Homo sapiens: one gene and its partners. The protein of the gene in region 2 interacts with the protein of the main gene of each other region in a biochemical or structural test. Each region holds a gene or a part of one and is shown on either strand. Other genes may lie near its edges.

Evidence for each region.
Region 1: of the proteins of PIAS4 (region 2) and PRKCZ, one has a biochemical effect on the other in vitro, tested with the Homo sapiens proteins (one study listed by BioGRID).
Region 3: the proteins of PIAS4 (region 2) and PLAG1 form a complex in vitro, tested with the Homo sapiens proteins (one study listed by BioGRID).
Region 4: of the proteins of PIAS4 (region 2) and TOP1, one has a biochemical effect on the other in vitro, tested with the Homo sapiens proteins (one study listed by BioGRID).
Region 5: the proteins of PIAS4 (region 2) and SUMO2 form a complex in vitro, tested with the Homo sapiens proteins (4 studies listed by BioGRID).
Region 6: of the proteins of PIAS4 (region 2) and AREL1, one has a biochemical effect on the other in vitro, tested with the Homo sapiens proteins (one study listed by BioGRID).
Region 7: the proteins of PIAS4 (region 2) and HTT form a complex in vitro, tested with the Homo sapiens proteins (one study listed by BioGRID).

What each region holds. Positions count from the first base shown.
Region 1 is NC_000001.11:2,147,911-2,151,410, reverse strand, and holds part of PRKCZ (protein kinase C zeta type), read right to left. Parts: intron 2,540-3,500; coding exon 2,487-2,539; intron 622-2,486; coding exon 433-621; intron 1-432. UniProt on the Homo sapiens protein: Calcium- and diacylglycerol-independent serine/threonine-protein kinase that functions in phosphatidylinositol 3-kinase (PI3K) pathway and mitogen-activated protein (MAP) kinase cascade, and is involved in NF-kappa-B activation, mitogenic signaling, cell proliferation, cell polarity, inflammatory response and maintenance of long-term potentiation (LTP).
Region 2 is NC_000019.10:4,035,236-4,038,735, forward strand, and holds part of PIAS4 (E3 SUMO-protein ligase PIAS4), read left to right. Parts: intron 1-2,138; coding exon 2,139-2,269; intron 2,270-2,380; coding exon 2,381-2,640; 3' UTR 2,641-3,500.
Region 3 is NC_000008.11:56,208,474-56,212,643, forward strand, and holds the start of PLAG1 (zinc finger protein PLAG1), read right to left. Parts: upstream 2,801-4,170; 5' UTR 2,648-2,800; intron 1-2,647. UniProt on the Homo sapiens protein: Transcription factor whose activation results in up-regulation of target genes, such as IGFII, leading to uncontrolled cell proliferation: when overexpressed in cultured cells, higher proliferation rate and transformation are observed.
Region 4 is NC_000020.11:41,119,322-41,122,821, reverse strand, and holds part of TOP1 (DNA topoisomerase 1), read right to left. Parts: intron 1,127-3,500; coding exon 1,032-1,126; intron 817-1,031; coding exon 667-816; intron 1-666. UniProt on the Homo sapiens protein: Releases the supercoiling and torsional tension of DNA introduced during the DNA replication and transcription by transiently cleaving and rejoining one strand of the DNA duplex.
Region 5 is NC_000017.11:75,172,960-75,176,459, forward strand, and holds part of SUMO2 (small ubiquitin-related modifier 2 isoform a precursor), read right to left. Parts: intron 1,865-3,500; coding exon 1,793-1,864; intron 1-1,792. UniProt on the Homo sapiens protein: Ubiquitin-like protein that can be covalently attached to proteins as a monomer or as a lysine-linked polymer.
Region 6 is NC_000014.9:74,710,281-74,714,576, forward strand, and holds the start of AREL1 (apoptosis-resistant E3 ubiquitin protein ligase 1), read right to left. Parts: upstream 2,801-4,296; 5' UTR 2,653-2,800; intron 1-2,652. Other genes in the region: rRNA-processing protein FCF1 homolog, read left to right, coding at 2,918-2,920, 3,205-3,272. UniProt on the Homo sapiens protein: E3 ubiquitin-protein ligase that catalyzes 'Lys-11'- or 'Lys-33'-linked polyubiquitin chains, with some preference for 'Lys-33' linkages.
Region 7 is NC_000004.12:3,241,569-3,244,457, reverse strand, and holds the end of HTT (huntingtin), read right to left. Parts: 3' UTR 501-2,889; downstream 1-500.

The DNA of each region.
Region 1 (3,500 bases), on a different chromosome or scaffold from region 2:
CGTATCAGTGGTTGGCCATACATGAGAAGGTTGCAGAGACCACGATACCCATCTTCACCTTTTCTAAGCTTAGACACGTGAGTGCTCTCGTGGTGGTCCCCTCACTGCCTGCAGTGTGCAGTGCACTAACAGCCGTACGGGCTTGCAGCCTGGGAGCAGGAGCTGCACTGTGCATCTTGGCTGTGGAGTTGGCTGTGCTGTTTGGGTTTGTGGAGTGCACACTGTGATGTTCACACAACAGTGCCATTACCTAACCAGGCACTTTCCAGAACACATCCTGGTCATTACACGATGCATGACTATTGATTTTGCACAAACTCCGTCAACGTGAGGCTAGGTCTCTCGTGCATGGATTAATTCCGCTAAAGCCCGGAGGAGGCCCCAGGGCAGCGCGTTCCCGGGCCCCCGGGCCCCATGAGAAGCGGCACCTACCTCGTCATCATGCACCAGCTCTTTCTTCACCACTTTCATGGCGTAAATTTGGTCATTCTTCTTCAACCGCACCAGGAGAACCTTGGCGTAGCTCCCGCGCCCGATGACTCTGATTAGGTCAAAGTCCTGCAGCCCAAGCCCCTGAGAGATTTTGATTCCATCCATCCCATCGATAACTGGCTTAAGGTCCTAGGGAGGGAGAACAAGACCCCAGAAAGTGAGAGGGGGGTTCCCGGGAGACTCAGAGGACCACGCATCACTCATGCGGTCCCAACAGAGACCTGCTCCTCAGAGCCCAGGGCCTCATGATTCGAGTCTCAGTTCTGCGTCCCACATATCCCACCCCCAAACTCCCATCTAAACTGGGGCATGAAAGGTAAGAATTTAAGGCTGTGTGCTTCTGAGGAAGGTGCTAGAAAGCTAGAAGCTGTTCGTTCCACAGACCATGGCTCTGGTCACAGCTGCAGGTGGGAGGGACCCCCAGGCCCTCAGCCCTATCAGTGGGGCTGAAGAGGTGGCCACAGGGACATGTGGCCCAGGGCCTGGGCCCATCCTTCCTGATCAGTGCCCTCCCTCAGGGGAAGGAAGGTAAAGCGAATGCAGCTAATGCCTGCCAAGAGCTCCCAAACCGGCAGGCACACATTATTAGAAATAATTATTAGAAATACCCAGGAGAAAGGCGCTCCGAGGAAGAACAGAAGCCTCTGCCTCCCGCAAGCTACACCTGGCAAGGAGGTCGGGGTGGAGGAGGCGGTTCCTTGGGAGGTGCTGTTCTGTGCGGCAAAATGGATTCTGCTTTTTTTTTTTTTTTTTTTTTGAGACGGAGTCTGGCTCTGTCGCCCAGGCTGGAGTGCAGTGGCACGATCTCGACTCACTACAAGCTCCACCTCCCGGGTTCACGCCATTCTCCTGCCTCAGCCTCCCCAGTAGCTGGGACTACAGGCGCCCGCCACCACGCCCAGCTTTTTTTTTTTTTGTATTTTTAGTAGAGACGGGGTTTCACCGTGTTAGCCAGGATGGTCTCCATCTCCTGACCTCGTGATCTGCCCGCCTCAGCTTCCCAAAGTGCTGGGATTACAGGCGTGAGCCACCGCGCCCAGCCGGATTCTGCTTTTTTTGAGACAGACTCTTCCTCTGTCGCCCAGGCTGGAGTGCAGTGGTGCGATCTCAGCTCACTGCAGCCTCCACCTCCCAGGCTCAGGCGATCCTCCCACCTCAGCCTCCCAAGCAGCTAGGACCACAGGCCCGTGCCACCATGCCCAGCTAATTATTTTGTATTTATTTTTGTAGGAACAGGGTCTCGCTATGCTGCCCAGGCTGTTCTCGAGCTCCTGGACTCAAGCGATGTGCGCAGCCTCCCAAAATGCTGGGATTGGAGGTGTGAGTCGCCGTGCTCAGCCTCAGATTCTGCTTTCTAAGTGCCCCGGCCTCCCTCCAGACACAGGATGGCCAGGAAGGAGCACGAGTTGTGAGGGTGACACTTGTTGGTGCTCTGGAAAGGAGTGGGCTTCGCTAGTGCAGTCCTTCCCTGGGTTTTACGAGCAGAGGCTGAGAACGCAGCAAGCTCTTCTGTTCCCTTCTCAGGGTTTATGGTGCAGAGCTGGCCACAGACGTGAGGCTCAGTTGAGCCTCTTGGCTCAAGTTGGGGAAGGACATGAAAGGGCTTCAGAGGGTTTGCCAGGATGGCCAAATGAGGCAACACAATTCGGAAGGCATGGTGCAGACACAACTTGATAAAAATTGCAGCTCAAAAGCCAGCCCCTGGGCCACTGTACCACCTGAATGGAGAGGATGTGGGGCACGGCTTCCCCCGCAGGGTGTGGTCCCCAGACCACCTGCGGGGACAGCTGCCTGCAGGTATTCATCAAGGACATGCCTGAAGTAAGACCCAAGAATAAGGACTTCCTTCTAGACATCCACACCCGTGAAGATTAGTTAGCAACACCCCGGACCATGTCTATTTCACATCTAGATTTCCGTGACTACCCCAGAGACAGGCTCACAGACTTTCCAGAGGACGTCGGAAATGGCAGCGAGCTGCTCCACACACTCACCTCCGAGTCGTCTTTAATGCTGTCATGCTTCCGGGATGAGGAAATGTAAGCAACTGGTGAGAGAGGGAGGAAGGAAGGGGCGTTACGGTGTGGTCAGGAACGCACTGGGAACACAGCGACCCTGTGGACCTTGCTCCTCTGCAGGGTGACGGTGAAGGGTGAATCCACACAGCAGCCATGTCTGATTCTAATTTAGAGTCTTCTGAAAATGCAGTTTCCTGGGCCCCACTCACACCTGCCGACTCTGACCATGGGACCTGGGGATGTACATTCGTGACATACGTCCCCAGGGGTCCATCTGCAAATAATTCGTCACCGGATTTTGGTGTCTAGTGAATGGGTGGGTAGGGGCAGGAGTGGATGTCTGGTGGATGGATGGAGGATGACTAGATGGGGGATGAATGGAGGCCTGGATAGAAGACGGATAGATGGAGAGGTCAGTGCACAATGGATGGATAGATGGAGAGGTCAGTGGACAATAGATGGATGGATAGATGGAGAGGTTAGTGGACAATAGATGGATGGATAGACGGAGAGGTCAGTGGACAATAGGTGGATAGATGGAGAGGTCAGTGGACAGTGGATGGACAGATGGAGAGGTCAGTGGACAATAGATGGATGGATAGATGGAGAGGTCAGTGGACAATAGATGGATAGATGGAGAGGTCAGTGGACAACAGATAGATGGATAGACGGAGAGGTCAGTGGACAACAGACGGAAAGATGGAGAGGTCAGTGGACAACAGACAGATGGGTGGACAGGTCAGTGGACAACAGACAGATGGATAGATGGAGACGTCAGTGGACAATAGATGGATGGATAGATGGAGAGGTCAGTAGACAATAGATGGATGGATAGATGGAGAGGTCAGTGGACAGTGGATGGATAGATGGAGAGGTCAGTGGACAATAGATGGATGGATAGATGGAGAGGTCAGTGGACAATAGATGGATAGATGGAGAGGTCAGTGGACAATAGATAGATGGATAGACGGAGAGGTCAGTGGACAACAG
Region 2 (3,500 bases):
AGAACGATGCCACTGCGGGTGCCTGGGAGCAGCTGTAGCCTTGACAGTAACAGGCCAGCCTGGGCCCTGCATGGACCCGTGGGGCAGGGGGCCTCTCCTCAGACGCCCCCCAGCCACTGCACCTTTCCCTTCCTGCGGGTGGGGAGACTGAGGCCCTTTGGCTAAGACGGGTTGGGGAGCAGAACCAGGGCCTGCCTCCAGTTGGCCTTGTGGCCTCAGGGAACTCGTTCCCTTCCCGAGCCTCTGTTTCTGCATTTGTAAAATGGGGCTGGTAGGACCTCCGAGTAAAAAGGCCGGACACAGTGGGGGTGCTCTGGAGAGGCTGTGGCTGGCATGGGCGTGGGGAGCCCGCACTCTGCTCCCATTGCTACCCTCACAGCCTCTGCAGGGGCTTTGAGCAGCCAGCACCTTCACTCCAGCCTGTTTCCTGATCTGGCGGGCACACAGTGCAATGTGAAAGCAGGTGTGCGTGCACACCCACACCCGCATGCCCACACATCCATACAGTCCACACCATCACACACACACACCCACACACATCCATACAGTCCATACCATCACACACACCCGCACACATCCATACAGTCCACACCATCACACACACACCCGCACACATCCATACAGTCCACACCGTCTCACACACACACCCGCACACATCCATACAGTCCACACCGTCTCACACACACACCTGCACACATCCATACAGTCCACACCATAACACACACATACAGTCCACACCGTCATACACACACACACACATCTGTACAGTCCACACCTTCACACATCCATACAGTCCACACCGTCATACACACACACATCTATACAGTCCACACTGTCACACATCCGTACAGTCCACACCGTCATACAAACACACACACATCTATACAGTCCACACCGTCACACATCCGTACAGTCCACACCGTCATACAAACACACACACATCTATACAGTCCACACCGTCACACATCCATACAGTCCACACTGTCATACACACACACATCTATACAGTCCACACCATCACATGCACACACATCTATATGGTCTACACCGTCACACACACACACATCTATACAGTCCACACCTGTTACATGCACACATCTATACAGTCCACACCGTCACACATCTATACAGTCCACACCGTCATACACACACACGTCTATACAGTCCACACTGTCACACATCCGTACAGTCCACACTGTCATACAAACACACACACATCTATACGGTCCACACCGTCACACATCCATACAGTCCACACCGTCATACAAACACACACACATCTATACAGTCCACACCTGTTACATGCACACATCTATACAGTCCACACCGTCACACATCCATACAGTCCACACCGTCATACACACACACATCTATACAGTCCACACCGTCTCACATCTATACAGTCCACACTGTCATACACACACATCTATACAGTCCACACCGTCACACATCCATATAGTCCACACCATCATACACACACACATCTCTACAGTCCACACCATCACATGCACACACACATCTATATGGTCTACACCGTCACACACACACACACATCTATACAGTCCACACCGTCACATATCTGTACAGTCCACACCGTCACACACACACGCCCACACCCGCATGCCACACATCCATACAGTCCACATTCACGTATGCCCATATGCATCCATTCACACGTGTGTACACATGCTCACACACACACATTCATAGACTCCACACATGCACACGTGCACACACACGCACATGCTCGCACACATGCACAGATACACTCACGTCCACACACGCTCAAACATGCGTGCACACCCGGAGGTGCCCAGAGGGGCAGGGTGGGGAGGACCCCTGCAGCTGCCACACTCCCTGCTCTTGTGGGTAGTTGGGGGCCACTGGGTATGTGTGTCCATGCCCCGTCCCCCCGGCAGTGCCGTGCACTGCAGACCTGCCTGGGGCTCAGCACCTGCAGGGGCCTGAGGGCGGGGGAGGGAATGCGGGGTCCCTGGACCCCTGCGGTCGGGGTGGTGAGGCTGCTCTTGCAGAGAGAAGTGGGGAGTGCCTGGCTGCATCCGGGAGGGATGGAGGGCTGGGGAGTTGGGGGGGTGGGGCACCTCCAGCCCCGGCGTCAGCTGTCCGCCTCGCCCCAGGCTCCTCTCGAAGATCCTGAGCGAGTGTGAGGACGCCGACGAGATCGAGTACCTGGTGGACGGCTCGTGGTGCCCGATCCGCGCCGAAAAGGAGCGCAGCTGCAGCCCGCAGGGCGCCATCCTCGTGCTGGGTGAGTGCCTCACCCCACCAGCCGCGCAGTCCGCAGCCAGGGCCGCCTCAGTTTCCCCATTTATCAGTGGTTGCATCCTAAGTACCTGCACCCTGTCCCTGTTGCCCGTAGGCCCCTCGGACGCCAATGGGCTCCTGCCCGCCCCCAGCGTCAACGGGAGCGGTGCCCTGGGCAGCACGGGTGGCGGCGGCCCGGTGGGCAGCATGGAGAATGGGAAGCCGGGCGCCGATGTGGTGGACCTCACGCTGGACAGCTCATCGTCCTCGGAGGATGAGGAGGAGGAGGAAGAGGAGGAGGAAGACGAGGACGAAGAGGGGCCCCGGCCCAAGCGCCGCTGCCCCTTCCAGAAGGGCCTGGTGCCGGCCTGCTGACCCCGGCCGCACACTCGACTTTCCTGGTGCTCACCACGCAGAGGGGCACGGGCCAGCCTCGGGCGCAGAGGGAGGAGTGACCTTTCTTTTTCTTTTTATTGTCGTTCGTTTTGTTTTTCCACCCTTTTGCCTGGCTCCTGGCACCTGTACCTCTGGACTCTCCTATCGGGGGATTAAAAAAAAAAGTAAAATGACAAAAAAAGATACAAAAAAGAAAAATGAAACAAAAAAGTCAAACTCTTAAAAACAAGGCCGGCCACCCACACAGCCGCCTCCCCGGCTGGAGTCCGAGCCGGGAAGGGGTAGTGGGCGGGAGGGACCAGGACGCCGCCCCGCGCCCTCCCCTCCGGATGCCCCGCCGCCCGCCGCCCTCTGCCCACGACCATTCCAGCCAGTGCGCGGGGACCCGGGCGGCGGGCGGTGGGGCGCAGCCCCTCTCTGGCGACCACTTTGACGTTTGTCTCTTCCTTTGCTTTTTCTCTGCAAATGCATCCTCGCCCAGAGACCCTCACGCGCCGAGCAGCGAGCGTTTTAGCCGAGAAGCCATGGAGTGGGTTGGGGCGGGGAGGGGCAGTAGGGTGGGGGGATGGGTGGGCAGGATGGGGGTACAGTGGGCGGCTGGGGAGGGTTTAGCCACAGATGTGTTGTATTTTTTGAAAGTGCAATAATTTGGTATTTTGAAGACCCGGCGTGTGGTCAGGAACCCCCGGGGAAGGCGGGGGCCCAGGGTGCGGCACCGTGTGGCGTGGGGGGGTCTCAGTTTTCTAGCCAGCTACCTCGGTAATTCCAATTCAGGTTAACTTCCCTACGGAACAGCACAGATGTCCACAGATGTCCACAGCTGCCGCCGCCGCCGCCGC
Region 3 (4,170 bases), on a different chromosome or scaffold from region 2:
ATTTACAGAAAGTTGGAAGAACTCAGTTGTAAACACAAGTTAACATACAATAGACTACAAAAATAATAACTTGTTTATACAGTAGGGCAAGAAAAAACATTCTATATAAGAAGTCTAAAAATTCAGCTCTAATTTTAATCCATGTCTATAAATAATAAAAACAAGAGGAAATAAGGATTTATTTCAGAAACTCCATATACCTGTGGAAAATGGAACACAAGTAATTTCTACTGAAGATTAACCTTAATCCCCATTATAGTACAGCTAACAATTTACACATTTTAAATTTTGAAAATATCGTGGAAATCTAAAACATAAGAGCCGATAGTAGTTTATGGTCAGTAAACACTTTCTGTTAAATAACACAAATAAATTCAACTTAGAAAATGAAAACTCACAGGGCTCAGGATTTTAAAAATCTTTTCATTTCAAAGGCGCAAAGTTACAACCCATGCATAGGATGGACTTTAAAAATGGATGTGTAAACTTTTCCATGGTGTTGGTGTGTGTGCTTTCCTTCCCCCTAAAGAAATGCCTACTGCTTACAATTTTAAAGAATCTTCACCACTCTGTAATTTTCAACCAGAAGTCCTCAATGTACCTTAAGCCAAATTGAATATTAAGGTATTTTACAGTTTTTACAAAATGGCTGTAAAATCACATTATGGGCATACACAGCTCTTTGATCTCACTGCACAGAATTCATAACTGTTCAATAATGCTATACCATTACACCACACACCTTAAACTATTTCCATTTTTCCACAATTCCTTCCAAAATCAGCTTCCAAAGCAAAGCAATGTAACATGAAAAGTTCCTGGGAGGGCTTGTTACACAAAGGAACAGTTTGGATACAAACTATACACATATCCATCTTCGGTTGAGGCTGTTTATCCCTCCTGTCCCTCCATCACTCCTATGGGTGGGTGCACTGGAGTAACAGAAAGGGAAGGCTCTTCCATCACCACACCCTCCCAGCACCTCTGCTTTTGGTCCTCAGACAGTGATTCTGTGTAGGTGATGAAAACCATAAGAAAAGAGAAGCTGTCCCTTTAAAATGCCCTGCTCTGTCCCATATCCCACGTGGAACCAACATCAGCAGCACTTTCCCATTAACATCAATGTGATGCAAGAGACATCATCCTTTTATACACATAAAACCAGAAAACCTCAGCTTAACATTCTTTAGGAAGGATGAACAGGTGAAGCAAACATGTCAGGAAGGGGGAAACCAAGCAACTCCACATCCCTCCCCAAAAGGTACTCCAGCCTTGCACTCCAGCCTCTCTGAGCACCATCACCTCTCTATCCCTCCTCTGCAGAGCCCAGTTTAAAGAAAGGAGGGAGCCACTAACAAAACCTGAAGCATAAATGCGACGAAAATGCAATCTAAAGCCGGAAAGGTTCATTCTTCCAATCACACATATTAACTCTATTAAGAAAATGGCATCACTTTTTTTTCCACCCAAAAAAACCCCGCAAAGATCATTAAAAGAGAGTTATAAAATAGCAAATATAGTGTTTATCTTATCTGAGATCAGTCCACATTACCAATAAGTTTAGCAGTTTCTGCACTACCACCTCCCCCCTCGCTCCCCCTGCTTCTCTTGCATCGGATTTTCACGTTTTCTCATTGTCGGTTGAGTTATAAAAGGCTTTTGCCCTTCGAAAGTTTTAAAAAATAAATAAATATTAACTCCTTGGTCCCTGCAAAGTCAAAATGGACTTCAGGGGAAAGGCGGTACATACTTTTACCTTTAGCGAGAAAAGGGGGAGCATCCCGGATTTTTAGGGATTTTTTGCGATTTTTTAAAAATTTTTATTTGGTTATATGCCTGAGTTCTCCCTCCATTTTGGTTGTTTATGATACTGACAACAAGCTGTCCCTGCTCTGTGCCGATCTCCTGCTTTCATTTAGCACCCCCTCCCCCTACCCCCCCTCGCAGCCACACACCCCGGGCTCACACCTCCCTGCAGACCCCGCACCCCGACCCCGGCTTGCCCACCTGAGGAAAGGGCAAAAACAAATTCATTTCTCCAGAAAAGAAAAACCTCTTTTGAAAAAGGGGCAAAGTTACCCCAAGTCACTCAAAGTGCCCCCCAAATATTGCCGACTGCGGGTTTCCGCCAGGCCCTTTGGGAAGCGACCTTCCCCCGGGATGTTTTGGTGGAAAATGCGGAGAGTTTACTCTCAAAACTGAATTTATATTAATTTTTCCCTTATTTTTCGGGTCTCTAATGTCTTCCGCTCTCGCTGCTGCCGCTGCCGCTGTCACAATATTCACAGCACCAGAGAGGAGGAGGAGGAGGAGGAGGAGGAAAACTTTTCAAACTTTCCAGACCCTGAATAAAGGTTTTTTTTTTTTTCCCACCGACCTCACCTTCGGGTCCCCAGCCGCATCGCCCCCTGCCCTGTCAGAAGCGACTTCGGGAGTCCTCGCAGCCCCGCGTAATTATTTTATTTTATTTTTTATTATTATTTTTCTCTCTGGGGTCCTGAGCAGGGGCTGAGAGTAGCACAAACTTTTCCTCCTCCTGCCGCCGCCGCTGCTCCTCTGCCCCCTCGGCTAGTCCCATAATTTAAATAACCCTGATATTTCTCCCGCTAAACGCCTCGCCGCCGCCCCGGACCCCCGGAGAACTCACCGCGGGGCTTTAACATCCTCCCTCCGGCCCGTCCGCCGCCTCTACACCGCCCGCGGAATTTCTAATAATTTTTTTCTCATATTTCGGGCTGGACGCGGCGGGCCTGGAAATTGTTTCCTTACGCCTCTTTCCAGCAGCCATTGTAGTGTATGCGCTGCCCCTGCAGCCCAACTTGCAGCTGCCGCCGCCGCCGCCGCCGCCGCCGCCGACGTCGCGCCCACCGCTGCCTCCCCCTGCCTGTTCGGCCACCGCCCCCGCCTCCCGTCGGCCCGCCCCCAAACCCCGCCCGCCGCTGCGCCCGCCCCCCGCGCGCGCTCCGCCCGAGAGCTGGCCACTCGGAGCCGCCGCTGGCGGGAGTTGGCCCGCCCATTGGGCCGCGACGCCGCCCGTCAAGCCGAAGTGTTAAGAGACGGGCCGCGGCTGGGGGGCGCGGTGGGGCGGGGGAAGAGGGGGCGGGGTCGCGCTCACCGCCCCGCCCACTCCTCCCGCCTCGGCCCTCCTTTCGCCAGGCGGGGGCGGGGCGAGGCCCGACCGCCCCTGCGGCCCAGGGCCCCGCGCGGCTGTCAGTCTGGCGGCGGCGCGCGCCGATTGGGCGGGCTGCCGCCGGGGAGCGGGGGCAGCAAGTTGGGATGCGCGCTACTTAAGGTCCTGCTGCGTGAGCCATTGACGTGTTTGGAGCTGGAGACGGCCTGGGTGCTGGCGAAGCGGAGGCCGGAGGTGAGTGGTTCCCCCGCCCTACCTCCGAAGCGGCCGCAGAAAAGCGGGGAGAGAGGGGTGCCCTTGGGCCGTAGCGGGGCCCGAATGCACTTCTGCGGCGCGGAGGCGCTCCCGCCAGGCTTCGCCGCAGCGCGGACCTCTTCCCGTTGCTCTTCCTCCCGCCACACGGGTCTGTTCGCTCCGGGGGCGAGGAAGATGACCTCTGCCTAGTCCGGGCAACCCCAGCTCTTCTTCCACTCTCCTGTGTAGCCTCTGAAGCGCAGTTACCGGCCCCACCCCCAGTTCCCTGCGTTTTCCTCGCCCCTTGTCTCTCTCGGCATGGTCTCGGCACAGCAAGGTGTGTTCACCTGTGCGCGCCGTCCAGGATCAGATGCTGACGGGCTACACCGCGGAAGGCGGCGAGGCCTCGGGTTCGCCCTTCGTTTCTCCTTGCCCTGCGCGCCCACCTCCGGCAGGCCACCCTTGACTTCTTGCCCCCTTCCACTTTGCACCTGGCAGTGGGTTAACGGCACGGCGTGTGCAGCTTCCGGGTTTAGCAGAGCCGCGGACCCTGCCTGGGCTCCGACCACGGGGCGTGTGGGCATGAACGTGTTCAGAAACGTTTCCTTCCCCCTGCCCTTTCAAAGCTACTTAGAGAGGGGGGACGTGAACCACTGGATGGGAAATCAGGAACTGCTTTATTAAGCAGTTTGCCCTTTGGAGTGGATTTTAGAGTTATCCCCTGAATGTGCTATGGTTTTGTGGCCCCTCCTTCATATCTTTGCTTGGTTTTTCTTTCTGGTTATGCTCTGCAAGTAGTAGAGCCT
Region 4 (3,500 bases), on a different chromosome or scaffold from region 2:
AGCACCAAACAAGGCAAAACGAGCAGAAAGAGGTACAAAAGACCTAGATGGAAACTTTAGCCCGGACTAGCAAGTGCCATAGGGGAGGATATCTCCACCTATGCTCAGAACTTAACAGCTCAAACTAAACATCTTCCATAACAAAGCCACTTGTTTCAGATGTTATGTGACACTGTGTGTGACACACAGAGAAACCTAGTATTTATCTGCTTTTGTTAAAGGTCCCTCTGCCTCTCTGTGTAAGTTGCTCAGATCTGTATTCTCATCTTTATCTCTTGTTCCTACCTTCAACTGCAAAAAAATTCAACGAAAAGTTTTGTTGAAGTGTAGAGATGGATGGGCTCTTTCCTATTCTTCCAGAAGCTAAGAGTTTCCATTCCTGTCCTAAAGTTCCATTAGGAATAGGGATGGCACCTGCCTCTTAAAAATATACACTACAAGGCAGTGTAACAGCACTGACCATTTAGGAGCAACCAGAATGTTGCAATGCATTTACAGACAAGGTTCAGCAACCAGAGTAACTTGTACACAGCTGAAGCCAGAAGTTTCCCCAGAGGACTAAAGTGTGTAGCTTAGGAATGGCATGTGAAGGCCACCAGTGCTCTCGGAACCCCCTCCACCTTTCTTAAGCTAGCAGCAGGAGCTCAAGGAGGGCTCAACACTTACCAAGCCACTGTGATCCTAGGGTCCAGATAATTGAGTTTGGAGGTTCCCAGGGCAATCTGTTTATTTTCCTCTCGGTCTGTGGCTTGAACTTCCAGCTTCATCAACTGTTCCTCCAGTCTCTGAACAGCCTTCTTCTTTGACTCTACTACCCTAGAAGAATAGCAAAGTCCTCAAGAACCAGGCCTGGGCTCTAGACAAGAGCACACTGTACCCATCCTGCCACTTTGAGTCAATAAAAGCCCTAGTATAGAGATTTCCAAAAGACATTTCTCAGAAACCATCGAAAAGCCAGGGCCCCAGGGGCCCTGACAGATGCTGCACACTTTTCTCTACCAGCCCCAACTTTCACAATACCAGGTACATACTTCTTCGTCTTTGCATCCTTCATGACCTTGGCATCAGCCTTAGCACTTTTCAGGTCTCTCCGGGCATCTGCTAGCTGTTCCTTCTTGGCATCAATCTAGGGGAAATAATAGTGGTAAGGTTATGAGCTGTAGAGGAAAAATGGCTCCACCTGAGAAGGTGAAACCAAGATGTTATCTGGACCAGGCTGTCTCTGTCAGTGGTTTGTCAGATAAAAAAAAACAAGGGTGGCTTCATGAAGGCAGGGAGAAGATGCACAAGGACTAGTGAATTCAACTATTTGTTCTTCAGTGATCTGGAAAGAAACAAGGGTTTTACAGGGCAGTAACCTAGGGGCTCAGGGAAAGGAACCCGCTGGGGCTGGGAATCTGGGTGCTGATCTTTCCATCAGAGAACACTCTGCTGTCATACATCTGGGAGGATGGCTACAAATGACAGCTGTTTATCAAATAGATCCTGTGCCAGTTCTTAGCTTTCATTCTAAGAACACTGTAGGAGCTCCTCTTTAGGAAACTGAAGCAGGATACTTGCATCTACTGGGCAACCCCAGCTCGTTCCTCAGATCCCACCAGTACTCTGGGAAGGCGGTGCCAGCTTCTCAAGGAAAATGGATGCACTGAAGAGAGTACTCAAGGGGCTACAAACTGGCAATTAAAAGACACCCAGGAAGCCAAACAGCTCAGCCAGTCTGTCCCAAACCAGGACATGGCAGGGCTTAGCTTTGGCATTCTGTTTTTAAAAGGAGAGCGGTCACCAGGCGCGGTGTCTCACGCCTGTAATCCCAGCACTTTGGGGAGGCTGAGGAGGGCGGATCACAAGGTCAGGAGATCAAGACCATCCTGGCTAACACGGTGAAACCCCGTCTCTACTAAAAATACAAAAAATTAGCCAGGCGTGGTGGTGGGTGCCTGTAGTCCCAGCTACTCGGGAGGCTGAGGCAGTAGAATGGCATGAACCCGGGAGGCAGAGCTTGCAGTGAGCCGAGATCATGCCCCTGCACTCCAGCCTGGGCAACAGAGCGAGACTCCGTCTCAAAAAAAAAGGAGAGAAGTCTGAGGTGGGAAGGACCTTAGTTGTCACTCAATGGATGTGAAAACACTTTTAGCTGTGGAGCTTTTTTCCCCATGTGAACTCTCATGGAATCCATATCTATAAGGGAAGAGACAAGGGCAGTTTCAGCCTTTCTTGCTTGTTAGAATCTTTGAAGCACCCCTGGTGAATCTAAGTTCTTCTCAGATTCCTGCTTAGAGACAGCAGTGGATAACAACATGGAGCTAGAGCCCCTGTCACTGAGCTCACGCTACTCAGAGGGCAGGAGAACCCCATACCTATGGTCATCTATGTGAGGTGAAGACAACCTCTACGGAGTAAATAACATGTCTGACACACACTGGGCTGCTCACTGAACCTGGAATTGTTTGTTGTTAGATACACACAGCCCAAGATTGGAAACAGAGGCCACCATTGTGAGAGGATCACTAAATATGTTTTACTATGAATGGCTTACTTCCAACATCTATGTTGTCCAAAGCCAAACTGAGGGGACTGATTCTATATACAAAAGCATCACAGACACCACTAGCCAGATTCTTTTTAGGATAGAAATGTAGCAAACCATGATCTTTTAACCATTTCTGTGAATGCTAAATTGGCAGGCTATGTCAAATTCTCTCAAAGCATCAAAGACTCCATTGATTCACTTGGCAAACAGGGGCGTGTGTTTGCTTTGTGGGCACACAGGAGAGGAATCCTGGGTTTGGAGGGCTCATCTGGCAGGCAGCCTGGGCTGCCCAAACCCGGTTCCAGAGCGAGAGCAACAAAAGACCTCCTCATGCTCCTGGGAGGGGTTTTCCTGAATTAGGTAAACAGCACCTGAATATTCATGCTTTTATTTCTGGCTTGTAATGATAACATGAGGAGAATAAACAATTCCAGATGACCAGCATTTAACAGAGTGGCAGCAAATGTGAGCTGCTAGGATGGGCCGTCTATAGAGTTCTTTGCCTGCCAATCATATGATCCAAGGAATCAAAGGTCTATGGATGTATACTCATTCACTGTGGACATGTACGTCTCTTCAAGAAAGCCAGATGGCATCTGTAGCATAAATTATAAGTTGTGTGTACCTTTTGAACCAGCTATATTACTCATGGGTACTTATCTTAAGGAAATCTCAACAAATGGAAAATATTCTGGGCCTTAAAATGCAGTCTCATTCCACAGTAGTAGTTCTTAAACTCCAGTTGTACAAGTATAGAATTCCATGAACTTGGATGAGAAAAAATCTATAATTTCAATAACCTCTTTTTGGAACTTATTTATATTTATTTTTAAATTTTTAATACAGACAGGGTCTCACTATGTTGCCCAGGTTGGTCTTGAATTACTCAGCTCAAGTGATTCTCCCACCTCAACCTCCCAAAATGCTGAGATTACAGGTGTGAGCCACTGCACCCAGCTTCTAGCTGAAA
Region 5 (3,500 bases), on a different chromosome or scaffold from region 2:
TTCAAAATATTCTTCTTTTCAGTACAACTCAGGGGCTTTTCCAATTTTCAAAGATTATCAACAAAACTACAATCTGGATGTGCTGCTTCATGCCACATTTATCACTTTCTAGTTTTTACTGGGTGATAAAGTTGAAATTCAAAAGTACATGGGATCCAATTTAAATTTCTACTATCACAACATTGTAAAATATGTTTCAGAAACTGTAAGTCTTCTATTTTTGAGACAGAGTTTTGCTCTATCGCCCAGGCTGGAGTGCAGTAGTATGATCATAACTCACTGCGGCCTGAAACTCCTGGACTCAAGCACCCCTCCCACTAAACTTCCCAAGAAGCTGGGACTACAGACACATGCTACCATGCCCAGCTCTTTTTCTTTCCTGTAGAGACCAGGTCTTGCTATATTGCCCAGACTGGTCTTAAACTCCTGGCCTCAAGCAACCCTCCTGCCAGTGTCAGTTTCCTAAAGTGATAGGACTACAGGTGTGAGCCACCAAGTCAGGACAAGACTGGAAGTCATTTTTTTTTTTTTTTGAGAGAGGGCCTCACTTTGTCACCCAGGCTGGTGTGCAGTGGTACCATCTTGGGTGACGGCAGCCTCCACTTCCTGGGCTCAAGCAATCCTTCCACCTCACCCTAAGAAGTAGCTGGTACTACAGGCACGTACCACTGCTCCCTGGCTAATTTTTGTATTTTTTTGTAAAGAGAGGGTTTTGCCATGTTGCCCAGGCTGGTCTTGAAATCCTGGACTCAAGTGCTCCGCCCACCTTGGCGTCACAGTGCTGGCATTACAAGCACTTTGTAATCTTGAAAATGGCTCTCATGAGCCACCCTGCTAGGACAAAACTGGAAGTATTTAATGGAACTTTGAAAGGGTAAAAAGAAACAAAGAGCTTCTGCCACAGAAGACAATCCAGCTGATCCTACAGAAAGTGACAGAACAAAATGAAGTGGTACATAAAGAGTTAAAGGATCAGAGAGCATCACGTTTTGTAGTAAGGATCTGGAAAATCTCCTATTATCAGGGGCTCTCCCTGTCAAACAAAGCTATGGGACGTGGCAATTAGGGCTATTAGTTCCTTTTTGTTCATGAAGACACGTAAAAGAGAATTTCAATTCAGCATGTAGAACTAAAATGGTGAGGATTTGGCTGGGTGCGGTGGCTCACACCTGTCAATCCCAACACTTTGGGAGGCCAAGGCGGGCGGATTACTTGTGGTCAGCAGTTCAAGACCAGCCTGGCCAACATGGTGAAACCCCATCCCTACCAAAAATACAAAAATTAGCCAGGCATGGTGGTGCATGCCTGTAATCCCAGCTACTCTGGGAGGCTGAGGCAGGAGAATTGCTTAAGCATGGCAGGCGAGGGCTGCCATGACCCAAGATCGTGACACTGTACTCAAGCCTGGGCGATGGAGTGAGATTCCGTCACAAAAAACAAACACAAACCACTGGTGGGGTTGGGCACATTGATTCGTGCCTATAATCCCATCACTTTGGGAGGCCAAGGCTGCAGTGAGCTATAATGAGGCCACTACACTTCAACCCGGGCAACAGAGAGGCCCTGTCCCTAAAAAAATAATTAAAATGAAAATTAAAAATAAATGAATAAAAACCATTGGCATTTCCTGAGCCTATTCCTATTTTCCTTTCTGTTCCCCTCTGGTCATACTTCCCAAAGCTCTGAACTCTACAAGAACTTATACTCCAGTGTCTAAACGTTCAAATTCATAAACACAGCTGTTCAAAGAATTACAAATGGTAATTTTTCTAATTAGGAGAGATTTTTTTACCTGTGCAGGTGTGTCTGTTTCATTGATTGGTTGCCCGTCAAATCGGAATCTGATCTGCCTCATTGACAATCCCTGAACGAGAATTTAAAAGCAATAAACAGCATTAAGAGAAACAGAATTCTATTTACATAAAAGTACATGCATATTTAACCATGAATATATTAAAGAAATACCTAAATAAACAATTGCCAACATGTTAACATACCCTATAGGTAAAAAGATTTGGGGTGATTTTCATTTTCTTTTTTTTGAGACAGTTTTGATCTGTTGTCAAGGCTGAAGTGCAGTGGCGTGATCTCAGCTCAAGGCAACCTACACCTCCTGGTTCAAGCGATTCTTCTGCCTTAGCCTCCCAAGAGTAGCTGGGACTACGGTCCCCCGCCACAACAACCGGCTAATTTTTGTAGTTTTAGTAGAGACTGGGTTTCATCAGGTTGGCCAGGCTGGTCTCGAACTCCTAACCTCAGGTGCTCCGTCCGCCTCAGCCTCCCAAAGTGCTGGGATTACAGGAGTGAGCCATGGTGCCCAGCCTCTCATTTTCAGTGAACAGTAAGATGTAGTATTTTTTTTCCTTTTCTTTTTTTTTTGAGACAGAGTCTTGCTCTGTCACTCAGGCTGGAGGGCAGTGTCGCGATCTCGGCTCACTGCAACCTCCACCTTTTGGGTTCAAGCAATTTTCCTGCCTCAGCCTCCTGATTAGCTGGGACTAGGCAGGCGCCACCATGCCTGGCTAATTTTTGTATTTTTTAGTAGAAACAGGGTTTCGCCATGTTGGCCAGGCTGGTCTCGAACTCCTGACCTCAGATGATCTGACCACCTCAGCCTCCCAAAGTGCTGGGATTACAGGCATAAGACACTGTGCCCGGCCTGTTTGTTGTTGTTGTTTTTGTTTGTTTGTTAAGACAGAGTTTTGCTATGTCGCCCAGGCTGGAGTGCAGTGGTGCGATCTTGGCTCACTGCAACCTCCGCCTCCTGGGTTCGAGTGGTTCTCCTGCCTCAGCCTCCCGAGTAGCTGGGATTACAGGCGCTTGCCATCATGCCCAGCTAATTTTTGTGTTTTTAGTAGAGACAGGGTTTCACCATGTTGGCCAGACTGATCTCGAACTCCTGACCTCAAGTGATCCACTCACCTCAGCCTCACAAAACGCTGGGATTACAGGTGTGAGCCACTGCGCCCAGCCAGTAAGTCATTCTTTTAGAAAGCTTTACTGCTTTTCAGACACAGCTACTATAATGTTAAATAGAACATACCTTGAGACAAATATGCATTTAAATGAGTTAGACAAGGAAATGAAATTTTTTTTTTTTAAATGGAGTCTCGCTCTGTCGCCCAGGCTGGAGTGAGTGGAACAATCTCAGTTCAACGCAACCTCCACCACCGGAGTTCAAGTGACTTTCCTGCCTCAGCCTCCTCAGTAGCTGGGACTACAGGCTCATGCCACCATGCTGGGCTAATTTTTTGTATTTTAGTAGAGATGGGGTTTCACCGTGTTAGCCAGGATGGTCTCAATTTCCTGACCTCGTGATCCGCCTGGCTGGCCACTAACAGGAAATTTAAAGGAAAAAAATGCCCATTTAAAGACTCCAGTCTGAGCTCGGGGGCTCACACTGTAATTCCAACACTTTAGGAGACCAAGGCAGATCATCTGAGGTCTGGAGTTCAAGATCAGCCTGGCCAATATGGTGAAACCCCGCCTCTACTGAAAAT
Region 6 (4,296 bases), on a different chromosome or scaffold from region 2:
TTAGCTCCCTATTAGGTATTAACAATCAAGGAAATCAGAACACTCTCAATAGAGGTTACAATAGAAATTACAAATGGCCTTTTTTTAAGTTGTTGTTGTTCATGGATTCCAAAATTCAAAGTACACATTACCAGAAGAGCGTTTTTCTGTCAGTGCCTAAATTTAAATGCAAATTACTATTTAATGATATGCAATTTTCCCTCTGAACCTATATATAATACTAATGAGTCAAATGTTTAAGAAGAATAACTGACCATGTTATTTTAGCTTTTAGACAATAAAAAGCTTATTGTCTAATCACCAAGAGATACATCAAAAAACTGGTTGCTATTAGCTCTACACATGAATGGCAGCTTGACAGAGACAAGCTGCTCCAGAAAGATTAGGAACTTCTAGTGACCACAAATGGGGTAAAGCAGAAGGCACATACAGTATCTGTAGCTACCATTTCTACATCAAAAATTCAGTGCCCACAGATATGTAAACTATTAAGCCATCTAAATGAATGTGTGCCTGAAAGAGAAAGGAGAAGCAGAAAAAGTTTACACCCAAATCAACAGAAGAAATCACCCTGCGATTGAGCATCCCAGGACCTGAAAACTTAATGTTTTGAGGTTTATGAACACGTTCAAGTTCCAGTGCAACTATGTTAAAATAAAATTGGGCTGGTGCCAGGCACGGTGGCTCACGCCTGTAATCCCAGCACTTTGGGAGGCCAAGGTGGGCGGATCACCTGAGGTCGGGAGTTCAAGACCAGTCTGACCAACATGGAGAAACCCCGTCTCTACTAAAAATATAAAATCAGCCAGGCGTGTTGGCGCACGCCTGTAATCCCAGCTACTCAGGAGGCTGAGGCAGGAGAATCGCTTAAACCTGGGAGGTGGAGGTTGCAGTGAGCCGAGATTGCGCCATTGCACTCCAGCCTGGGTAACAAGAGCGAAACTAACTCCGTCTCAAAAAAAAAAAAAAAAAATTGGGGCTTGGCACAGTGGCTCACGTCTGTAATCCCAGAACTTTGGGAGGCCGAGGTGGGCAGATCACCTGAGGTCAGGAGTTTGAGACCAGCCTTGCCAACATGGTGAAACCCATCTCTATTAAAAATACAAAAATTAGCAAGGTATGGTGGCACACACATGCCTGCAGTCCCAGCTACTCGGGAGGCTGAGGCAGGAGAATTGCTTGAACCTGGGAGGGGGAGGTTGCTGTGAGCCGAGATTGCGCCACTGCACTCCAACCTGGGCAGCAGAGGGAGGCTCTGTCTCAAAAATAAAATAAAATAAAATAAAATAAAATTGGCATAAAATTCCAACCCTGCCACACATCCTCAAGTTGGAAGACACACAATGGTAACAACAGAAAACACTCTGAGTAGTCTGGTTTACACTCTTCTAGGGACCTCGCATGTTAACTATGAATAAACATAAGTCCTGATAACATCCCAATAAAAGAGTGCTACTATGATTATCTCCATTTTACAGATAAAGAAACTGAGATGCAGATAGATTAACTCACCCAATGTCATGGCGAGTTATAAGGCAGAGCAAGGATTTTAACCCCATCAGTCAGACTCCAAAGTTCGTGTTAAACAATAAACGTGTTTTCATCATAAGGGTTATACAATGGTCACCTTCTTTTTTAAACCTGATAACATATTTTACTTCCAACTCTAGGATAGCATCATGCAATAAGAAAAGTATGACAGAGGTACCCATTCCGTTCCCAGCTTGATCAGTAGCTGGAGAATGGAAGACAAAGTGCAAAAAAAAAAAAAAAAAAAAAAAAAAAAAGAAAAAAAAAGAAAGAAAGAAAGAAAGAAAAAGAAAAAAAGAAATACAAGTACAGACTTTGGAATCACGAGACTCAAACAGACCCCTGAACAAAGTCTGGGGCTCAATTTCCCCATATGTAAAATAAAAGAATTTATGTTATTGAGAAGGTCAAAGAAGGTAATATGAATAAAGTGACAAGTACAGTATACAGGATGGGGGTTTTCATTTAAAGTTTACAGACACCCAGAGGGTCCACGGATGGGCTTCAGAGTCCACCAATCTCATTAAGTGTATTACAAACTGTATGTGTGCCCATTTTTTAAAGAATTGTTCCTGGCTTTCCACAAACTTTCAAGAAATAAGTTATCTCCAAAAAGTTAAGAACCACTGGAATACATAGCAGGTACTCAAAGAAAAAAGCTACCTTTCGCTCCTTGTTCTCACAAATTCTCCCTTTTTACTTAAAGATGACACACCAAGGCTTCACAATAAATGTGCATTGTATCTCACCATTTTCTTGGCTTGGGTAAGTAGTAACATATGCAAGCTTATGCCCCAATTCTCTAGCGATAGTCTAGGCCCTCAAACACTGCTTCATTTCTCTCTTCACCGAGAGGAGTACACGGTATATACTCGAGAACAATCATCCACCTAGCTGCACAAAGCACCATATCGGCTAGGAAAACCAAATAGGAACCACAGCCTCAGGGCTGGACCATAGACACCGGATACCCCAACGCTACAGGGTGAGGAGAATGTGTTCCCCCAAACTACTGGGCAAACCAGGAGTCTGAACCCCCCTACCCTTTTCCTCCCTCTCTCTCTGGAACTCTGGTAAAGGCAGGTCTTCTGGGCTCTGCCTAAGGCTGGAGAGAAACGTTACCCGAGCCGGGGGTTGCAGCGCGACGAAGTTCCACCTCCGCTGTCCTGGGAAGGGGCGGCAGCACTCAGCAGAAGACGGGCTCCCCACTCTCCCACCAACAGACCCCAGAGTTGGTCTCCACCCGGCCTGGGAACCGGCTCGGGGGATTGCCCTTTCCCCAAGGAGTTTCCGCTTCCGGGCTATCCTTTGCCGGAAGCAGTATGTGAATGACGTAGAAGTATTGCGCCGTTGGTGATTACGGAAGAACCAGGAGTTTGGCGTGACCATGGTGAGAGAAGACGGTCCAAGAAGGGACGTTATCAGGCCACTTTTTGGGTGGAGAAGGAGGTAGTCAGACCGTGGCCAAATTTCCTTCACATTATCCTAGCATATTTTCATTCTGGTCTTAGCTCTTAAACTTCTCCAAGCGGTGACTGTTATGCTTTACAGAGTGGGGAAGAGGGTCTGGGTTATTTGAGGCAAGAAGGGAAGGCAATAGACAAGAGAAAAGAAGAGACTTTAAAAGATGCCGTGTGTTTCCAACTTTTTTAATTCTAAAATTTCTGTTTCAAGGGGAAGCAAAAGAAAACAAGGAAGTATGCGACCATGAAGCGAATGCTTAGTCTCAGAGATCAGAGGCTGTGAGTGTCTGGAATCAACTGCCCAGGGATATTCTAATAAGAGTCTAGAGAGGATAAGTAGTAAAAATGTTTGTTGTTATTATTTTGTTTTTTGCTTATTATCGTGTCTTAGATTTATATAGCATGAGATAGCCAGTGTTTAACAGTAATTTAGCTGCTGAGCGATCACACTGGGAAAGGCGATGGGAATTAAACATTTCTTAAGTGTTCACTTTTTCTACCGTTATATGCTTTGTCTGCCATATCGCATTTAAACCTCATGTCAGTTCGGTGAAGTCCGTATAGTTCTCTTTATGTTTTTACCATTACACTACTACATTCCCCTGGGGTGGGGCGAGGGGAGTGTTTCTTGTTGAAAGATGGCAAGGTTAGAGACCTTGTTTGTCTGGCGTTTCCAGTGCCTGGTACTCAAATATTTTTGTCAGAGAAAATGGGAAAACTCCAAGATATCTCCATTTTATAAGTCTTACTAATATAAGAATCCAAATCACTGTGGAAGAAGAAAGTGAAGTGAAATTCCCTAGTATGAAGAGGATCAAAGCGGTGTCCCTGCTTAAGTGTAGAATAAGCATAGCTATTAAATAAAGACTGATCTTCACTGAGTTTAAGAGTCTCAGAAAGCCGGGCGCAGTGGCTCACGCCTGTAATCCCAGCACTTTGGGAGGCTGAGGCGGGTGGATCACCTGAGGTGAGGAGTTCAAAACCAGCCTGGCCAACACGGTGAAACCCTGTCTCCACTAAAAATACAAAAAAGAGTCTCAGAATAAGAGAATAGTCGTTAAAACCTTCAGAATTATTATTCTCAGCCTTTAGTGTGGATGTATTGTGTAATTTTTAGGAATGACACTCCATTAATAATAATTTCTTTCTAGTTAAGGGTTAAGTTCTGTATATGCGTTTTTACATTTTAGCCCTTTATAAGAAGCATATGGGGTAATACTTTTCCCCCAAAAGTTAAAGCATCTGAATCTTCAGAAGATAACTGTCACCCTTTTACCCATTGCTTGGAAGTGGATTGTGATCC
Region 7 (2,889 bases), on a different chromosome or scaffold from region 2:
CTGGGAGCAGCTGGGCCAGGGACGCAGGTGTCAATGGCCAAGGAGGTGGAAGGGTGGTGGGCCCTGTGAGAACACAGCTCTAGTCTCTGTGCTGGGCCTGATGACCTGCTTCAGTGCCATGGGCCAAGTCCTGAGGCTTGTGTATGTCATATAAGCTTATGATGTCACTTGACCATGAAGGCTCCAGCAGCTCCAGCAGCTCCCACAGCTCCCATCTGCAGGGCAGGAAGACCACCTGTACTGTGGTTTGGGAAGGCCCTTGCAGAAGCACCCAGCCAGGCCCATGCCCTGGGGCCACTTCCTCATCCCTGGCTACAGAAAACACGGGGCCTGTCCCTGCTGGCAGCTGCCTGGGGGACCCTCCATAATGCCAGATGTTAGCTGGTGGGACAGTTTCTGCCCCTGCTGGAGAAGCACTTAGGAGACTGCTTCCTAAGACTCCAGCTCAGCAAGGTCTAGGTTCTCATGAAGCAAAGCAAGCCTCACACAGCAACAACTGATGGTTTCCATTTTTTTCCTTTAATTTGGATGTACAATGTTTGCAGCAGTTAAAAAATTAAATATACATCTCTCGTCAGTCCTTCCCTTTGCTCTCAGAAGCATTCAGGTCTGGGTGGGGCTCCGGGACTCGCCCATCACAGCCCTGCTGGCTCCAGGGGAGCTCAAGCTCAGCTGACAGTCCCTCTGACCACGGTGCAAAGCAGTGAGACCTGGACAAGGAGGCCCCACTTGGGTCAGAGCCCACCCTCCGTAGGCAGGTCCACGTTGGCCACGATCCTCCAAGGCTGGCAGTTACCACCCAGATTGCAGCGGGAGACTCTGCTCTTAGAAACAACTGAGGGGAAGGCGTTCCTTTGACTGCACCAGAGCGTGACAGGCACATGGGGGAAGAGCGGCCCCTGAACCTTCCAGGTTGCCTTCAGTTGTCATGCGGCATTCTGAGCAGCTCCCTCCTTCCCAGGAGGCCCAGGCCCGGCAAGCGAGTGTCCTCGTCTGAGCCATCCTGAGCTCTCCAAGGTCCCTCAGCAGCTCTCAAGATCTTCCTTCTTCTCACTCCTACACGTGACCCCTCTGGAGGACAGCTCCAAGTCTACCCTGGCCAGCAGCTGTGGTCCCGGGTCCTCCCCGCAGAGGGAGGAAGCGGGGGAGGGACAAAGCCCGATGAGGATGTCTGCTGGGAAGGATGCTCACAGGTAGCAAGAGAAGCCTGACTCCACCCACCAGACACACAGAACTAACCTCACTCCACCCCGCAACGGGAGGAAGTTCCACCTGCCAGGCGGCCACACACCGAGTTATTGCTGTCTACTATCCGTCCCGAGCTCCACGTGGGGCTCATCTCAGCTCCAAGAGGAGGAGCTGTTCATTGGCTCCGAGGGCTCTGAAATGACCCCCTCCATGAAGATGGGGGCGAGGGGTGTCCTTTAGGGCACAGGGCCTTCTCAGATGCTACATTCTGGGTGTCTGGAGGGGGTTCAGCTTCACATTTTCCCCTTGAAAGGACACATGCGCTGGCAGAAATGAGGGTGGACAGTAACAAAGAGCACTTGGCAGCTGGAAACATCACCTACATAGACTCAGCTGGGCCCGCAGCGGAAGGGAGGCACATTTTGGGAAAGAAACACGCTTCAGTGCATTGCCAAACAATTCTACCCTGGTTTCATTAAAATCTTTCCCGATATTACCAGCAGGAAAACAAAAGCAATCTCCCCACAGCCCACCCCCAAAACTTGACAACCAAATTAATCACATTTGCAACAAAATTTGGATAATACGATGGGTGCTTGCCACAGATTTTTAGGAACATGATAAAGTCTTCCTCCCTTCTGCAGAGAGCTGATATGGAGACCATCTTCGCCAGTGGGATCCTAGTGGGCAATGAATGAGCCCTGCCCTGACCACGTCCCACGCCTGGATGTCCGTCACGCGGCTAACTTGACCTGGCGGGTCTAAGGAAAGTCAACTTCCAGGAAGAACCGACACGGGCACTCTTAGAGGCCATGCATCTCCGTCTTGAGAGGTGTGTGTGTAAAATTATAGATGTGTCTATATGCACATGCATGGATACTTTATGTATATGCGTGGGTGAAGTCATTTTTACTAATGAGCTCATATTCATCTCCGGAGCACACAGGCAGGTCTTTGGGGGTGGGGGACACCTACTGCCAGAGCGGGGTGTTCTGAGCCCCTTGCTAAGGACTGGTTTAGATCACGTCGTAAACAAGAGGAAGACAAACTCTATGTTGAGCCCAGCGATATGCATTCCAAGGGAATGGCTCTGTTTTACATTCACAGTGTTATTTCTTACAAATGTAAACATCTAGCCAGGAACAACATCTGGCCTGTGATACTGCTGTCTCAGAGCTGCTGACATAACCTGCGGGGGAGGCGGGAGGCGGGTGGGGAGCAGCCAACAGTTCTGAGAACTTTCCCCTCGTTCCCAAACCTTCTAGCGGGCTTTCCAGGAAAAAGCTAGGATGAGAAACAGGAGCCCCCAACCAATACGGAATGGTGATTTTCTTACGTGTTATAATTCAGTAGCTTCCCTTAAGGGCCTCCTCAAACATCGGACCCCTTTCTACCGCTCCTGCTGCCCCGCCACGAGGACGAGGTGGTCCTGGCTGGGGGAGGCCTCTGTTGGGAGCTGGTGGGAAAAGCCTCATACAGGCCTGGCAGAGGCTGCTCAGAGGAGGGGCTCCCTTTCAGCTCCCCCTCACGTATGTGGGCAGCATACAAGTCCACATCTCAGCTGCTCCCCAGCTGCCACATAGGAGAGGGACAGGTGGAAGCTTGGGGGTCTCAAGGCAGCACCTGCACAGAGTTCCAACATTTCCTCCACTTACCACATTCAATACCCAAAACATCGACGGGCATGACCAAACCAAGCCA